Regions from separate parts of the Homo sapiens genome. Here region 2 is linked to region 1. Evidence: fine-mapped expression QTL. Tissue or cell type: whole blood. Region 1 holds a variant in brackets; the other region holds the start of a gene. All regions are shown on one strand. Distances are from middle to middle.

Evidence for each region. PIP is the estimated chance that this variant, and not a neighbour inherited with it, causes the effect.
Region 2: LGALS4 starts here. The variant in region 1 is fine-mapped to the expression of LGALS4 in whole blood (TwinsUK, PIP 0.95).

The regions. Positions count from the first base shown.
Region 1 is chr19:39,161,411-39,169,510 of GRCh38, reverse strand. PAK4 (p21 (RAC1) activated kinase 4) reads right to left here. Exons shown (of 10, transcript NM_005884.5): 2 at 1,209-1,281. Among named protein-coding and RNA genes, the nearest start is that of PAK4-AS1, 29 kb to the right of the region's middle. The variant A/TTATTTA (reference allele first, on the strand shown) is at 3,955.
Region 2 is chr19:38,809,344-38,817,439 of GRCh38, reverse strand. It overlaps LGALS4 (galectin 4), which reads left to right and starts at 4,495. Exons shown (of 10, transcript NM_006149.4): 1 at 4,495-4,598; 2 at 4,921-5,009. The coding sequence starts at 4,554. ECH1 (enoyl-CoA hydratase 1) reads left to right here. Exons shown (of 10, transcript NM_001398.3): 5 at 76-124; 6 at 311-375; 7 at 917-987; 8 at 1,085-1,156; 9 at 1,433-1,583; 10 at 1,723-2,018. The coding sequence ends at 1,827. RefSeq lists a silencer at 1,485-1,685.

The DNA.
Region 1 (8,100 bases):
GGTGAGTGAGAGCCTGCCCATGTCTCTTCCTCCTCTGCCCCTGCTCTGTCCCTCCCATCCTCATCTTACACCGGGACCAACAGGAGGCAGTAGCCTCCTTCTGGGTCTCCCTGCCCACCCCCTGCGCCCATCTGTGTGGCACACACAGCCAGAGGGTACCCGTGAGCACCCGAGCGGTCACGTCCCTCTGCTCAGAACTTTCCTGCCGCTCTGTCTCCTGCGGGCCCACAAGGCCCCATCACCTCTCTGTTCTCACCCCCCCTGGAGACCTCAGAGCCTTTGCACGGGCTGGCCCCTCTGCCAGGAGCTCACTTCCCAGTGTCTGCACAGGGCTCCCCGTCCCCTCCTTCAGTTCTCAGAGCAGCAGTGACTCCTTTCCTGACCACCCCAAGGCAAAGAGCCCCGTGTCCCGCCGTCCCCCCGCTCTACATCACAGTCACAGCCCGGAACTCATGGAAATCCTGTTTGTTGTTCCTTCTTAGGTTCATGAGTGCAGCATCCACACCGCACCGCTAGAGTGTCAGTGCCACATTCTGGCTGGGTCTCGTCTGCCCCGCTTCCCCACATCCCCTGCTATGCCTGGTACATGGTGTGTACTGGATGGACGGTCACTGATGGCCTGGCCACTGCCACTGGTCCAGCCATGAGTCTGGGCTGGGGACGCCCACACCTTTGGATATTGACTCAGCACAGGGTTACTGATCCCCTGGGTTAAGAGGGCACCCCAGGCAGCCTTGTCGCGACACTCCCCTATCTTTAGGATCTGTGGTCTTCAATCGGGCCCTTGACACAGTACCAAGCACAGAGCAAATGGTCGACCAAAGCCACTTTAAAAAACAAAGGGGCTGAGGAAGAGACATTCTGATGGCGGCATCCCATAGAGAGCCTGGAGAAAGATGGGAGGGGGAGCCAAGAGGCCAGAGTTCGACTCTCCATCACATGCTGCCGTGACCTTGGGCAGGTGACAACCTCTCTGTGCTGTGGATGAACCCCCACAGGGCTGCTGCGAGGGGTAATGGGTGACTGGGAGCAAAGAGCTTGGTGCAGGGCTGGGCAAATATGGGGGGCCTATCGGTGGGGACCACTGTGATGGCTGGGGCGGCTCCCACAGTGCCTGTGGGAGGAGGGGCCCAGGTCCTGCTCCCCCCTAAGGCCCCACCCCAGCTGCCCCGGGCCTGGGCCCTGGAGTCGCACACACCTGCACACACCTGGTCTGATGCTGGTGGGACAGAAGTGCCCTCAGGCAGGTGACCACTCCTCTAGGGGCTTCGGGTTACTCATCTGTAAAATGAGAGGAATGCATCCATTCACTCACTCATTCATTCATTCATTTGGGAATAACTCAGCAATGGGCCTCCTCTGTGGCCACTGCAGTGACCCAGACAGCCTTTGACCTCATGGGAAATTCGTGTGGGGCAGACAGACCTGTCCCCATGCAGCAGCTGCCCAGGGTGGTCAGGGCTGGGGGACGGGAGCACGGGACCCAGTCTGGAGGGACGCGGGGTGGGCAGCAGGAAGGCTTCCAGGAAGAGGGGAAGAGTTGAGACCAGGGGACGAGGGGACATGCAGGTGGAGTTTCTGTTCTGTCTTGTCCCAGCTGGCTCCCCCGCGCCTGGCACAGCGCGTGGCACAGCAAGTCCTGTAGCCCTAGTGAGAGGACAGAGGACGCGCAGATGCACGTAGCCCCTCCACACCTACTTCTCCTCCCGGCTCAGGCTGCCTTCCTGGGAGCAGCTGGGAAAGGTGAGGCCCTGCCCAGAGCTAGGACCATCCATGGGAGCCAGCCAGGGGAACCGGTTTGGCAGCGGGAGCCCCGTGGGAGGGGGGTGGGGGCCCGGCAGCCAACCTGTCTCAGCTGGTCCCAAGAGGCCAGCGGGTGGTCAGAGCCGGGCCTGGCCAAGGCTCCCAGGGTTGGCCCAGTTTCCCTGCTTGCCCTGGGGCCCAGGATGGAGGGCGGACGGGGGGCCTCCTTTGTCTCTGCCCAGCCCCTTCTCTGAGCCCAATGCTGGCGCCCTGAGTGCTGCCCACCCCTCCCTCGTGGCCTTCCAGCCCAGCCCACCCCTGGTGGCCCTGACCTACTCTCTCATGGCTTTCTAGGCCCAGCTCCCAGGGTCATCCACATACCCCAACAGTCCCCATTTGCCCACTCTGCCTGCTGTCATTCCAGATCTGCGTCCCATGTCCTCCGGCCTCTCCGTCCTCCCAGATGTCCCTCCACCCCCTTTGGCCCCATGCCCAGCCCAGGCCTCTTCATCGTGAACCTGTCGCCCCGCCCCATCCCGCTCCCTCCCCACTGCGGGGCACTAGGCAGTTCCCAGAGCCACGGGAAGAGGATCAGCCATGTGACCCCTCACTAAGCCCGGAGGGCGGACAGCGGGGCAGACCCTGAGGTGGGGGACACCTGGGGACGGGGCAAGAGCAGCCTGGAGGGCGGGCGGCTGGCCCAGCTGGCAGCATGGGGTCTGGGGGATGTCCTCCGACGCCTGGCCTCCTGCCCTCCCACCCATAAACCCCCAAGGGAAGGGGGCAAGGGGCACGCCTCCGGATATTTGCCTGGGGCCACCCCTTCCCTCTGGGCACTGCACAGAGGGCAGGACAAACAGAGGAACTGAACATGTTTATAATGACCAGGCAGGGACCCCACCCTGGGCCGTCCTGTGCAGCTCCAAGCCCTGCCGGCTTCCCCAGCAGGCGCTCCCTTCCCAACAGATGCTCCTGACCTCATGGGGGCCACAGAGGCCGTGCCAGGCCTGGGAAGAGGGAGAAGAGCTAGGCAGAAAGGCTGGGCTTGCCCAGGTGCAGGGAGGGAAGGGTGGGGGCTGGGCTCCCAGGCCAGCTCCAAGCTTGGCAGTCAGGCTGCCTAGGGCTCCAAACCCCAGCAGGGCTGCCACGACTGGCCCTATATGACCTCACTTTCTGTGTCTGTGAACTGGAGCTCTAACCCAACCTGGGGACCTCAATATGTGGCCCTGGGTGAGCAACTCAGCCACGCTGTGCCTCAGTTTCCTCCTCTGTTCAAAGACGGCGATAATAGTAGCTGCTTCGTGGAGTATTTATTTATTTATTTTAAACGGAGTCTTGCTCTGTCGCCCAGGCTGGAGTGCAGTGGTGCGATCTTGGCTCACTGCAACCTCCGCCTCCCGGCTTCAAGCAATTCTCCTGCCTCAGCCTCCCAAGTAGCTGGGATTACAGGCGCCTGCCACCACGCCCAGCTAATTTTTGTATTTTTAGTAGAGATGGGGTTTCACCATGTTGGCCAGGCTGGTCTGACCTCTAGTGATCTGCCTTGGCTTCCCAAAGTGTTAGGATTACAGGCGTGAGCCCTGCGCCTGGCCTTCCTGGAGTTTTTATAAGGAATTACGCAGAACAGAGGGCACGGAGGGCCTGGCCCAGAGACAGTGGTTGGGATCAGAACCAAGGCAAATCACACACACAGTAAGTGCTCAGTAAGTGCCGGTCACCATTCCAATAGCAGCCAGCACTTACTGAGTACCTACTGTATACCAGCCCTCTTCCAGGCACTTTACCCGGAGTCCCACATATGATCCTGGAGGGAGGGGCCATTAATAAGCCCCGGATTACAGACAGGGAAAACAAGGCACAGAGGGGGACCTCATTAACCCAGGTGGCCCAGCTAGGGTGGCAGAGTGGACACCAGACTCCAGGCCTGTCTGCAGAGATTCGCGGGTTCCGGCCCTGCTGTGCGTCTAATCCCGTTCCATCCTCACAAGCATCCTCATCCCAATTCATGAATGGGAAAACTGAGGCCCAGAGAAGGGAAGGCCCTTGTCCAGGGCATGGACAGGAGAAGCAGCCAGTGAGAGGCAGACATGAGAAGCAGCCAGGATTTGAACCTGGGCGGTTGTGTATGGAAGGCACTGAAGGCTGGGCTCTTACCTGCCTGTCCTGCTGCCCTGGAGGGCTGAGGTGACACTGTTGGTTTTGTCTATTATT[A/TTATTTA]TTTTATTTATTTATTTATTTATTTATTTATTTATTTATTTTGAGAGGGAGTCTTGCTCTGTCGCCCAGGCTGGAGTGCAGTGGTGCAATCTCAGCTCACTGCAACCTCCGCCTCCCGGGTTTGCGCCATTCTCCTGCCTCAGCCTCCCCAGTAGCTGGGACTATAGGTGCCCACCACCATGCCCGGCTAATTTTTTTTTTTTTTTTTTTGTATTTTTAGTAGAGATGGGGTTTCACTGTGTTAGGCAGGATGGTCTCGATCTCCTGACCTCATGATCCACCTGCCTCGGCCTTCCAAAATGCTGGGATTACAGGCGTGAGCCACCGCGCCCGGCCTTATTATTATTATTATTATTATTATCATCATCATCATCATCCTCTCAAGGCTGGTCCTGGCCTCCCCTCTCCCTCCGTTCCCATTCTTTCTGTCTACACCCAGACCTTGCCTTTCCTCTCCTGCCTAGTCTCTGCTGAGTGAGGGTCCCTCCCTCCTGTGTGACCTGTCCTGGACCCCACGGGTAGTGGGAGGAAGCACAAAGTGGGCCCCGGGGCCCCCACCTCCCCAATGGCTGTACACCAGCCTTTCCCATGGGCCTGTGCAGCAGGAAAGATGCTTAAAACCAACCCCTCCCACCAAATGTGGCCTGAGGCTCAGCTCGGTACTCCCACCACCATCGCCACCACCACAAGGGACCCATGGCCCAGAGCAGACGCTGACGCTGAGCTCGCAGGCGCCCTCAACCACGGTGGAGTGGCCATTCTGAGCCCCATTTTGCAGCTGTGGAAACAGAGACTCACAAAGGTAAAATCTCTCACTAAGCTCACCGAGCAGAGCTGGGCCTGGAAGCCAGAGTCCTGCCCATTCCAGAGTCCTGCCCACTCCAGAGTTCACAGCCTTAAACCCTTTGCTGGCCCCCAAAATGCCTCCTCGTGGCCTGAGAGTCCCCACAGGATGCGCCCATCACCATGCTGCCCTCCTCTTCTCCCAAGCACCCCTGTACTCACTGTGCCCTGGCCACACAGGTCCCCCTGCTGTTCCTCAAATCCTAGACATGGTTCCACCTCAGGGCCTTTGCATGGGCGAGTGCCCCACCTGGAACTCTCCTCTCACTGATCTCCCACCTTCCCTGACTTCCCAGGCCCGCCTGTGCTCACAAGCCCTGCTCCTGTCCTGTCGCCCTCTACACCTGTCTCTGCTTTATCTTTCCTCAGGGCTCTTACCACATATATGGCGTGCTTGTGTGTGTGTGTATAATTCTTTTTTTTTTTTTTTTTTTTTGAGACAGAGTTTCACTCTTGTTGCCCAGGCTGGAGTGCAATGGCATGATCTTGGCTCACTGCAACCTCCGCCTAGTGGGTTCATGTGCTTCTCCTGCCTCAGCCTCCCAAGAAGCTGGGATTACAGGCGTCCGCCACCATACCCGGCTAATTTATGTATTCTTAGTAGAGATGGGGTTTTACCATGTTGGCCAGGCTGGTCTTGAACTCCTCACCTCAGGTGATCCACCTGCCTCAGCCTCCCAAAGTGTTGGGATTACAGGCGTGAGCCACCGGGCCCAGCCATATGTGTAATTCTTTAGCATCTGCCTCTCCCTTAGAATGTGTCAGCTTCACAGGGCAGGGACTGTCCTCTGTCTTACCCCCTCGTAGCCCAGGGCAGCACACAGTAGGGACTCCGTGGAATGATCGTCCCTGTCCGCTGCATTATTCCCCTGCTCAGAGGCCTTGGACAAGGCCCAGCAGCACCCGGGAAATCTTTCAGATAAGCAGCTGGGACCTGGGGGCAGTAGTCCCAGAGCAGCAGGAAGGTGCAGCCTTCTGCCCCAGCCGGGGCACAGATGCCTCTGAAGTCCAGTATTTGATCCCAGAAATGCAAGCGCATTTTGTATCCTACTCTAAAATGTTTATTTCAAATTTTAAAAAATCTTTTGAATTCTTTAACATGCGGGACAGGCAGCGTTGACCTGGCCTAGCAGACACTTCAGATTTTCCAGTCACCCCCTGCATCCTCTGACCTTTTCTGGGAGGAAAAGGGTCCCACCACCCCCATTCTCCCCCACAAGGTTAACTGGCCCAAATGGAAAAGCAAGATCCACCGTGCGACAAAGCTGTCAGTGTCAGCAGACGTGAGCGTGCAAAAACCCTTACCTCCTGCCCCGCCCCCTCCAGGCTCTGATCAAAGCTGCTGCCCCTGGAAGGGAGGGGGCTGGCCCACCCAGAACACAGGGGCCCAGGGGCAGAGCAGGGGAGGTGGCCAGGACCACAGGCATCCTTTCATCGTTACCAAAATGAAACTCGAATCAGGAAGGGGACCCAGACCGCTCACTGCCTCCAGCCTGCACTCAGCCTTCCACCATTGGGTCCCACTCACCACCCTGCCACAATCTTCACCTACCAGCTCTGGGAGGGCCCCTCCCTGCCTCAGTTTACCTCCTACCTTCTGGCATGTGCTTTGATGGTGGAGGCGCTGGGAGTTTGGCTTCCCGTCCCGGCACAGCAGGCTCCTCGCTGTCCTGAGTCCCCCAAGCCATTCCTGCCTCCAAACCTTGGCTTAGCTCTTGCCCCCATCCTGCACGGCCCCCAACCCTCCTCTAACCACATCTCTCTTCAGGCCTCCCACACTGAGCCTCGTTCCTCCAAGGAGTCCTCAGGTTTGGGACCGACACATCCCCAGAGTCTGCCTTAGCAAACACCTACTCCACCCACAAGTGACCCGATCACACCCACCCACGCATCGACCCACGCACCCGTCCATGTCTACCAAGGGCTGACTCTGCTGGGCCTGGGGCCCATAGCAGTGCACCCAACAGTCAGAAACATCCCTGTCCTCGCAGCACTCACATTCTAGAAGGAAGGAGGCAGTCAATGTATGAGATAAATCAGAAAAACATCTACTAAGTCGGGTGAGAAATGCTGACATAGAAAATAACGCAGCAATCAGAAAGGAGCTGAGGGGAGGGGAGGCTGGAATTCTCAATAAAGTGGTCAAGGCCGGGCACGGTGGTTCACGCCTGTAATCCCAGCACTTTGGGAGGCCAAGGAGGGAGGATCGCTTGAGCCCAGGAGTTCAAGATCAGCTTGGGCAACCTAGTGAGACCCTGTCTCTACCCCAAAAATAAAAAATAAATAAAAATTTAGCCAGGTGTGGTGGTGTGCGCCTGTGGTCCCAGCTACTGAGGAGGCTGAGGCGGGAGAATCACCCGAGCCTGGGAGGTCGAGGCTGCAGTGAGTGATCGTGCCACTGCACTCCAGCCTAGGTGACAGGGTGAGACCTTGTCTCAAAAATAAGAATAACAGGCTGGGTGCAGTGGCTTATGCCTGTAATCCCAGAACTTTTGGAGGCCAAGGCAGGCAGATCACTTGAGGTCAGAAGTTGGAGACCAGCCTGGCCAACATGGTGAAATCCCATCTCCACTAAAAATACAAAAAATTAGCCTGGCGTGGTGGCAGGCGCCTGTAGTCCCAGCTACTTGGGAGGCTGAGGCAGGAGAATCGCTTGAACCTGGGAGGTGGAAGTTGCAGCGAGCCAAGATCGCACCATTGCACTCCAGCCTGGGCGACAGAGTGTGAGACTCCATCTCAAAATAATAATAATAACTATTATTATAAAATAAAGTGGTCAGGCAGGCCTTGCTGAGAAGGGGACACGTGAGCAGGGACCTGCGTGAGGAGGGGAGAGGGAGCCATGTAGGGCTCTGGAGGAAGGGCAGCCCAGGAGGAAGGAACAGCCAGGGCGGTAGGAATTTGCTTGATATGGTCAAGGGACAGCGAGGAGGCCACGTGGCTGGAGCAGGGTGGGCGAGGGGGCAAGTGGAAGGACAGGCCAAGGAGGTAATGGGGCAGATCGTGTGGGGCTTTGGGGGCCACCGGGAGGGCCTGGTCCTTTCCCGAGTGAGACGGAGTTGCAGGGGTCTCTGAGCCCAGGAGGGCCACCGCCTGACTCAGGAGTTCACAGGCTCCCACTGGCTGGGAACAGTCTGTGGGGGCAGAACGGAAAGGGGGACCAGGGAGGAGGAGGCTGTGATGGCCCAGTGGAAATCAAGGGGGCAGGACCTTGTGGGGGCTGCAGAGGGGGCGGCATGAGCAGGTTCTGGGCACACTGTAAAGGTGGAGGTGGCAGGACTGGCCGAGGGCTGCAGCGTGAGC
Region 2 (8,096 bases), 350 kb after region 1:
GGTCTGGAGGGGATCTTTCTCCATACGCGCCTCCCCTGGGCCAGCCCTGACCCCACTCTTCCTGTTCCCTCTCAGTGCCCCAAGCCCGTGATTGCTGCCGTCCATGGGGGCTGCATTGGCGGAGGTGAGTCTGCGGCTATCCTCCTGCTCGGGTGCTCCCCAGGTGGGGCTGCTGCTCCGATGCCGCGGCCACTGGCATCCAGCCTCAGCTCTGTCATGGGCCAGACTGTGTCCCAAGAGGCAGCCCCACCTCCCGGGAGCCAGGGTTGGTTCTGGTGGTCATTCAGCATCCCTGGCCTCTACCTCCTAGGTGTGGACCTTGTCACCGCCTGTGACATCCGGTACTGTGCCCAGGATGCTTTCTTCCAGGTGAAGGTGAGTCATCCTCCCGAGCTCCTGCTTAGAGCTGGGCAGTGGGGTGAGGTTGGGGGGCCTGGAGTGAGCCTCGAGGGCTTCATGGAAGAGTCGGAGTTGAACCCGACAAAGTAAGACTTGCCCATAGAGGAAGTCAAGAGGTGAAGTTGTGAGTGGGTAAGGTATGAGGTGGGGTTGAGGCTGGCAGGTGTCAGAGGCAGAGATTGCTCCTGGGGCCATACTGGTGAGGGTGGGAGGCAGGATGGAGCCGGGGGATGCAGTAAAGGGGTCTCAGGTAGGGTGAGGAGGGTTCCTCTCTCACAGATGGAGCTGCCCTGAGGGAATGGGAGGGTGCATGAGTGGGAAGGTGGGCTCTATTCTAGGTTGAAGGAACTTGCCTGAGTCAAGAAGCTGCCTGGGCAATGGAATGGGACTTTGGAGGAAGTCACTGGGGTGAAGGTGGGGCGGGACTCTCCAGTAGACATGAAATTTCATGGACGTTGACATTGCGAGGGGCACAGTATTGGGCAGAAACCAAACACTGACCCGATTCCTCCCCCAGGAGGTGGACGTGGGTTTGGCTGCCGATGTAGGAACACTGCAGCGCCTGCCCAAGGTCATCGGGAACCAGAGGTGGGTGCAGGGGGTGTGGGGGTGTGGGCAGGAGACCCCAGAGCATCTCCCAGCCCCGGGGTGGCAGCCGCCTCCTGATGCACGCTTGCCTTTGCAGCCTGGTCAACGAGCTGGCCTTCACCGCCCGCAAGATGATGGCTGACGAGGCCCTGGGCAGTGGGCTGGTCAGGTAGGGCCATGGCCGTGGTAGCTCAGTGCTGGGGGCAGCCAGGCCTGGAGGGTTGGAGGCCTCTCCGGGTCCCCTTGTCTCCTCGCTCTAGAATTCCTAGTGGCATCCTTTCTTGGTGAGCTCATTTCTTTATTGTGGGGTCAGCCCCCTGCTCTGATTGGGCTGTTTCTCTGGGGTCTTGGGCCTTCCTCTGTGAGTGGCCACTTCTTCATCTGCGGGAGGCTGGAGGAGAGAGCCCTTCCCAGCCCACCCGGTCCCTGATCTCTTTCACTGCAGCCGGGTGTTCCCAGACAAAGAGGTCATGCTGGATGCTGCCTTAGCGCTGGCGGCCGAGATTTCCAGCAAGAGCCCCGTGGCGGTGCAGAGCACCAAGGTCAACCTGCTGTATTCCCGCGACCATTCGGTGGCCGAGAGCCTCAACTACGTGGTAAGGTGCACGCTCCGACCAATCACAGCCCTCCTCTAACCCCAGGCGACCAACCAGGGTGCAGGGTGCTCTCATGCTTTATCCTGATTGGCCCCTGCTAATCTCTCTCCTCGTTCTCTCTCAACACCCTCGGTACCAGGCGTCCTGGAACATGAGCATGCTGCAGACCCAAGACCTCGTGAAGTCGGTCCAGGCCACGACTGAGAACAAGGAACTGAAAACCGTCACCTTCTCCAAGCTCTGAGAGCCCTCGCGTCCCAGGCCCCAGCCAGGGGGCCGGCCTTGTCCCGCCTCATCCACAGAAAGGGAGGATGGGCGATGACAGTTGTTTCTATGCCTTCTGACCCAGTTTCCCAGTTTATAACTTTATGACAATGAGTTTCTCAAGCCCAAGGCCTTATCTTCACCCCACAAACAATAAAGCAAAGTAAAGAACCTGGTGCCCTTCTTGGATAGAGGAGAGGTGGGAGGGGCTGGGATGCACCTAGGGGCTCCAGAGACTGCAGTCCTGAAGGCTGGGGCTAGAGGTTGGATGCATGGGAATGGGTGGCATGGAGGTGATGGCCATTCAGACTGGCAGCGGGCAGGCGAGGGGCACAAGGAATTCCGGGGCGGAGGGAGTGAGCAAAAGTCGCTGGGGTCCCTCTGGGTTGCAAGGCTTCCTGGTCTCCCTGCCTGCCCTGGGGTTGAGGGTGGCGTTCGTGCCCTGCCTGGCACCTCTCACTGCACAGCACATGGGATCTGATGCTGGCGTCTCACACCTGTAATCCCAGCACTTTTGGAGGCTGACGCAGGTGGATTGCCTGAGCTCAGGAGTTTGCAACCAGCCTAGTCAACATGTTGAAACCCAGTCTCTACTAAAAATACAAAAATTAGCTAGGTGTGGTGGCAGGTGCCTCTAGTCCCAGCTACTCGGGAGGCTGAGGCAGGAGAATCCTTGAACCCAGGAGGTGAGTTTGCAGTGAGCTGAGATCATGCTGCTGCAGTCCAGCCTGGGTGACAGAGTGAGACTCTGTCTCAAAAAAAGAAAAAACAAAACAAAAAAGGACTTTGGGGTTTCTGGCCGGGTGCAGTGGCTCATGCCTGTAATTCCAGCACTTTGGGAGGTTGAGGCAGGTGGATCACTTGAGGTCAGGAGTTTGAGACCAGCCTGGCCAACATGGCAAAACCTGGTCTCTACTAAAAATACAAAAATTAGCCAGGCGTGGAGTAAGCCTGTAATCCCAGCTATTCAGAAGGCTGAGGCAGGAGAATCCCTTGAACCTGGGAGGTGGAGGTTGCAGTGAGCTGAGATGGTGCCACTGCACTGCAGCCTGGGTGATAGAGCAAGACTCTGTCTCAAAAATGAGCAAACAAAACTTTGGGATTTTTTATCCATATATCATCCCAATCTTCCGGATTTATGTTTGGAATGACTGCAAGAGACCAAGCATTAAGTTAATGACTTCTATATGCTATGTCCTGTTCTGAGCATTTATTATCTTAATGATCAAGGACTCTATGAAGTTGATACTATTATGATTATTATTATTATGACTATTATTGTTGCTATTTTTAGAGACGGACTCTTAGTCTGTCACCCAGGCTGGAGTGCAGTGGCATGATCATAGCTCACTGTAACCTTAACTCCTGGGTTCAAGCGATCCTCCTGCCTCAGCCTCTGAGTAGCTAGGAATACAGATGTGTGCTACCATGCCCAGCTAATTTTTATTTTATTTTTGTAGAGATGGGGGTCTCACTATGTTGCCCAGGCTGGTCTTGAACTCCTGGGCTCAAGCAGTCCTCCTGCTTCAGCTTCCCAAATTGCTGGGATTGTAGGCACAAGCCACCACACCCAGCCTAAGGTTGATACTACTCTTTTCTTTATTTATTTATTTTTCTGAGTGGCAGTTGGACCCACAGCTAGAACTTATTTGGCAGATTAATAACATACAGGCATTACTGGATCACAAATTCATTTTTAAAATATTTTGATAGCTATTCAATACTTGTTTCCTCTCTTATGAATTCCTTTTTTTTTTTTTTTTTTTTTGAAACAGAGTCTCCATCTGTCATCCAAGCTGGAGTGCAGTGGCGTGACCTTGGCTCACTGCACTCTCCTCCACTCAGGTTCAAGTGATTCTCCTGCCTCAGCCTCCAAGTAGATGGGATTATAGGCACCCACCACCATGCCTGGCTAATTTTTGTATTTTTAGTAGAGACTGGGATTTTGCCAGGCTGGTCTCGAACTCCTGCCCTCAGGTGATCCATCCACCTCGGCCAGTCAAAGTGCTGGGATTACAGGCATGAGCCACTGCACCCAGCCGATACTACTATATCCCCATTTTACAGATGAGCACATGGGCAAATTGAGGGTAAGGCACTGACCCATGATCATACAGCTGAGAAGTGGCAAAGGCAGGATTTGAACCTAGAACCTCTGGCTCCACACACTAGTAATCTAAACCACTCTCCCTACAATACAACATACGTGGTAAAGATGTGTGGTGGGCACGCAATCAACGTAGGTCCCTTCACAGTTGCTGGGAGAGGCAGGAATTTGCAGTTCCTCCGCGTTCTCCTCCTCCGCTGCCCACCTGTCCTGGGTCATTCCTGCAGCCTGCCCTGCCCTGCCTGGTCTCACCCTCCCTCTGCCAACAGAAGTCTGGGCAGGGTTTTATGGGCTCTGATAAGGCCCTGGCAGGGCCGAAGTTCATGAGCACTTCCTCTTTGCAGGAGGGCGTAGGGGAGGGGACCCAGGTGATTTGGGTCCTGGCTGGTCACCAGGGAAGCTGGCAAGGGAAGGGAGACTAGGGTGCGCTCTAGGAGAAGCCGACAGCCTGAGAGTCCCAGAAGAGGAGCCCTGTGGACCCTCCCCTGCCAGCCACTCCCTTACCCTGGGTATAAGAGCCACCACCGCCTGCCATCCGCCACCATCTCCCACTCCTGCAGCTCTTCTCACAGGACCAGCCACTAGCGCAGCCTCGAGCGATGGCCTATGTCCCCGCACCGGGCTACCAGCCCACCTACAACCCGGTGAGATGCCAGCTCAGGCCCCACTCCGCCCGCAGCTCCGTCCATAAGCCCTCACACCAATTTTCCCCACTCTGATCCTGGGGGGCCCCATCTGACTCTGTGGTCTGATTTACCCAAAGCTGACCCCGACCCTCGATTTACTCCTACCCTGACCTCAGGCTGTCTGTGTCCACGTCTAACTGTTGGCCCTCGTCATCTTCAACCTGGTCCTCCCCCATGGTTTCCTCTCTCCTGCTTAAGGGACTGGGGGGCTTTTCTGGGAGGGGTAAAGGCTGCAACAGGCAGATGGCTTGTGAGTCCCCTCACCAGGCCTCTTCTCCAGACGCTGCCTTACTACCAGCCCATCCCGGGCGGGCTCAACGTGGGAATGTCTGTTTACATCCAAGGAGTGGCCAGCGAGCACATGAAGCGGTAAGACCCTCCCCAAGCCAGGCCGGGCTGGCAGGGGACTTCCAACTGGGTGCTCTGGGCCTGGCTGTTGGGGGCTTTCTGCCCTTACCCCACCCTGGTGGAGAGGGGACTCTTTTTCTGCCCCACCCAATAGCCAGAGATGAATCTGGGGCAGATCAGGAGTGGGGACGTGGGGGCCAGAAGGTTCAGGGAGGGCTCACCGTGAGAGGCAGTCCCTGAGTTGGACATTAGACTGAAGCTGATGGGTGCAATGGCAGGAATTCAGATCACAGGCTCAGAGCCGGGTCCCCGAGTTAAAATCCCAGCTCTGCCACTCCCCAGCTCTGTGTTGGTGAAAGAGTGAAAGTGACTATACCTCTCTGTGCTTCATTTTCTTTTCTTTTCTGTTTTTGTTTTTTTTGTTTTTTTTTTTGTTTTGAGATGGAGTTTTGCTCTTGTCGCCCAGGCTGGAGTGCAATGGCATGATCTTGGCTCACTGCAACCTCTGTCTCCCAGGTTCAAGCGATTCTCCTGCCTCAGCCTCTTGAGTAGCTGGGATTACAGGCATGTGCCAGCACACTGGCTAATTTTTGTATTTTTAGTAGAGATGGGGTTTCACCATGTTGGTCAGGCTGGTCTCGAACTCCTGACCTCAAGTGATCCTCCCATCTCGGCCTCCCAAAGTGCTGGGATTACAGGCGTGAGCCACTGCGCCTGGCCCAGTCTTAGCTTTTTAAAAAGGGCCTTAACACGTTGATAATGATTGGCCTCATAGGACTTTTTTTTTCCTTAGAGATAGGGTCTTGCTCTGTTGCCCAAGCTGGAGTGCAGTGGCACAATATTATAGCTCACTTCGGCCTCCAACTCCTGGGCTAAAGTGATCCTCCTACCTCATCTTTCCAAGCAGATGGGACTACAGACATGTGCCACCATGCCCAACTAATTTAATTTTTAATTTTTATTTATTATTATTATTTGTTTTGTAGAGACAAAGTCTTGTTATGTTGCCCAGGCTGGTCTTGAACTCCTGTGCTCAAGCGATCCTCTAGCCTCGGCCTCCTAAAGTGCTGGGAGGATCAGGCACTGGTATGAGCCACTCTGCCCAGCCTGTTGTTTATTTATTTATTGTTTACTTCTTCACTGAGTGCCTATTCTGTGTCCTGGCACTAGGGATGGAGGAGTGAACAGGACAGAGACCCCTGCCCTCGTGGAGCTGATGTCCTAGTAGGGGAAACATAAAAAATAAGTCCAGGCCGGGCGCGGTAGCTCAGGCCTGTAATCCCAGCACTTTAGGAGGCCTAGGCAGGCAGATCACCTGAGATCGGGAGTTCAAGACCAGCCTGACCAAAATGGAGAAACCCTGTCTCTACTAAAAATACAAAATTACCAGGGCGTGGTGGCGCATGCCTGTAATCCCAGCTACTCAGGAGGCTGAGGCAGGAGAATCACTTGAACCTGGGAAGTGGAGGTTTCGGTGAGCCGAGATCGTGCCATTGCACTACAGCCTGGGCAACAAGAGTGAGACTCTGTCTCAAAAAAAAAAAAAAAAAAAGTCAAATATGTAAGATGTCAGATGATATTAAGTGCTATGAAGAAAATGAGGAGGGAAGGGAGATGGGGAGTGTATGTGCGGACAGAGGTTCCCTTTAAATTGTCCCCTTAAATAGGGTGGCCTGGCCGGGCATGGTGGCTTACGCCTGTAATCCCAGCACTTTGGGTGGCTAAGCCAGGCAGATCACCTGAGGTCAGGAGCTCGAGACTAGCCTGGCCAAAATGGCAAAATCGCATCTGGCTGGGCGTGGTGGCTCACGTCTGTAATCCCAGCACTTTGGGAGGCAGAGACGGGCGGATCACGAGGTCAGGAGATCGAGACCATCCTGGCTAACACAGTGAAACCCCGTCTCTACTAAAAATACAAAAAATTAGCTGGGCATGGTGGCGGGTGCCTGTAGTCCCAGCTACTCGGGAGGCTGAGGCAGGAGAATGGCGTGAAACCAGGAGGCGGAGCTTGCAGTGAGCCAAGATTGCGCCACTGCACTCCAGCCTGGGCGAAAGAGCGAGACTCCATCTCAAAAAAAAAAAAAAAAAAAAAAAAAAGGCGAAATCTCATCTCTGCTGAAAATACAAAATTAGCCAGGCATGGTGACAGGTGCCTGTAATCCCAGCTACTTGAGAGCCTGATGTGGGAGAATCACTTGAATCCTGAAGGCAGAGTTTGCAGTGAGCTGAGATCGCATCACTGCACTCCAGCCTAGGTGACAAAGGGAGACTGTCTCAAAAAAATTAAAAAGGTGGCCAGAGAAGGCCTGCCTGGGAAGGGAACATATCAGCAAAGAACAGAAGGAACGGAGAGAGGGATCCCCAGGGACAGCTGAGGGAAGGGCCTTCCAGGCAGAGGGAACAGCCAGTGCAAAGGCCCTGAGACAGGCCTGTCCTGGGGAGTAATTTCAAGGATGCTGGTGTGCCCAGGGGTGCGGAATATGATGCGTCATGGGTGTACACAGGGACCCTCTGGCTGCATGAGGGAAATGATCTTCAGGGCCAGGAGGGGAGCAGGGAGACCCAAAGTGCATAGGACAGGGCCTGGCCCGTGGCAGACTTGTAACAGTCATAACTGGAAGTTGGGAAGAGGGTGGAGGAGGTGGTCTAAGAAGGCAAGGTGGGCTGGGTACAGCAACTCACACCTGTAATCCCAGCACTCTGAGAGGCCGAGGTGGTAGGATTGCTTGAGCCCGGGAGTTTGAGACCAGCCTCGGCAACATAGTGAGACCCCATCTCTACAAAAAAAAAAAAAAAAAAAAAAAAAAGCCAGGCATAGTGGCATGCACCTGTAGTCCCAGCTACTAGGGAGGCTGAGGCAGGAGAATCAGTTGACCCAGGAGGTTGAGGCTGCAGTGAGCCACCATCGTGGCCACTGTACTCCAGCCTGGGGGACAGGGTGAGAACACAAGACCCTGTCTCAAGAAAAAAAATGTCAGGCACGGTGTCTCACACCTGTAATCCCAGCACTTTGGGAAGCCGAGGCAGGTGGATCACCTGAGGTCAGGAGTTTGAGATCAGCCTGGCCAACATGGTGAAACCCTGTCTCTACTAAAAATACAAAAATTA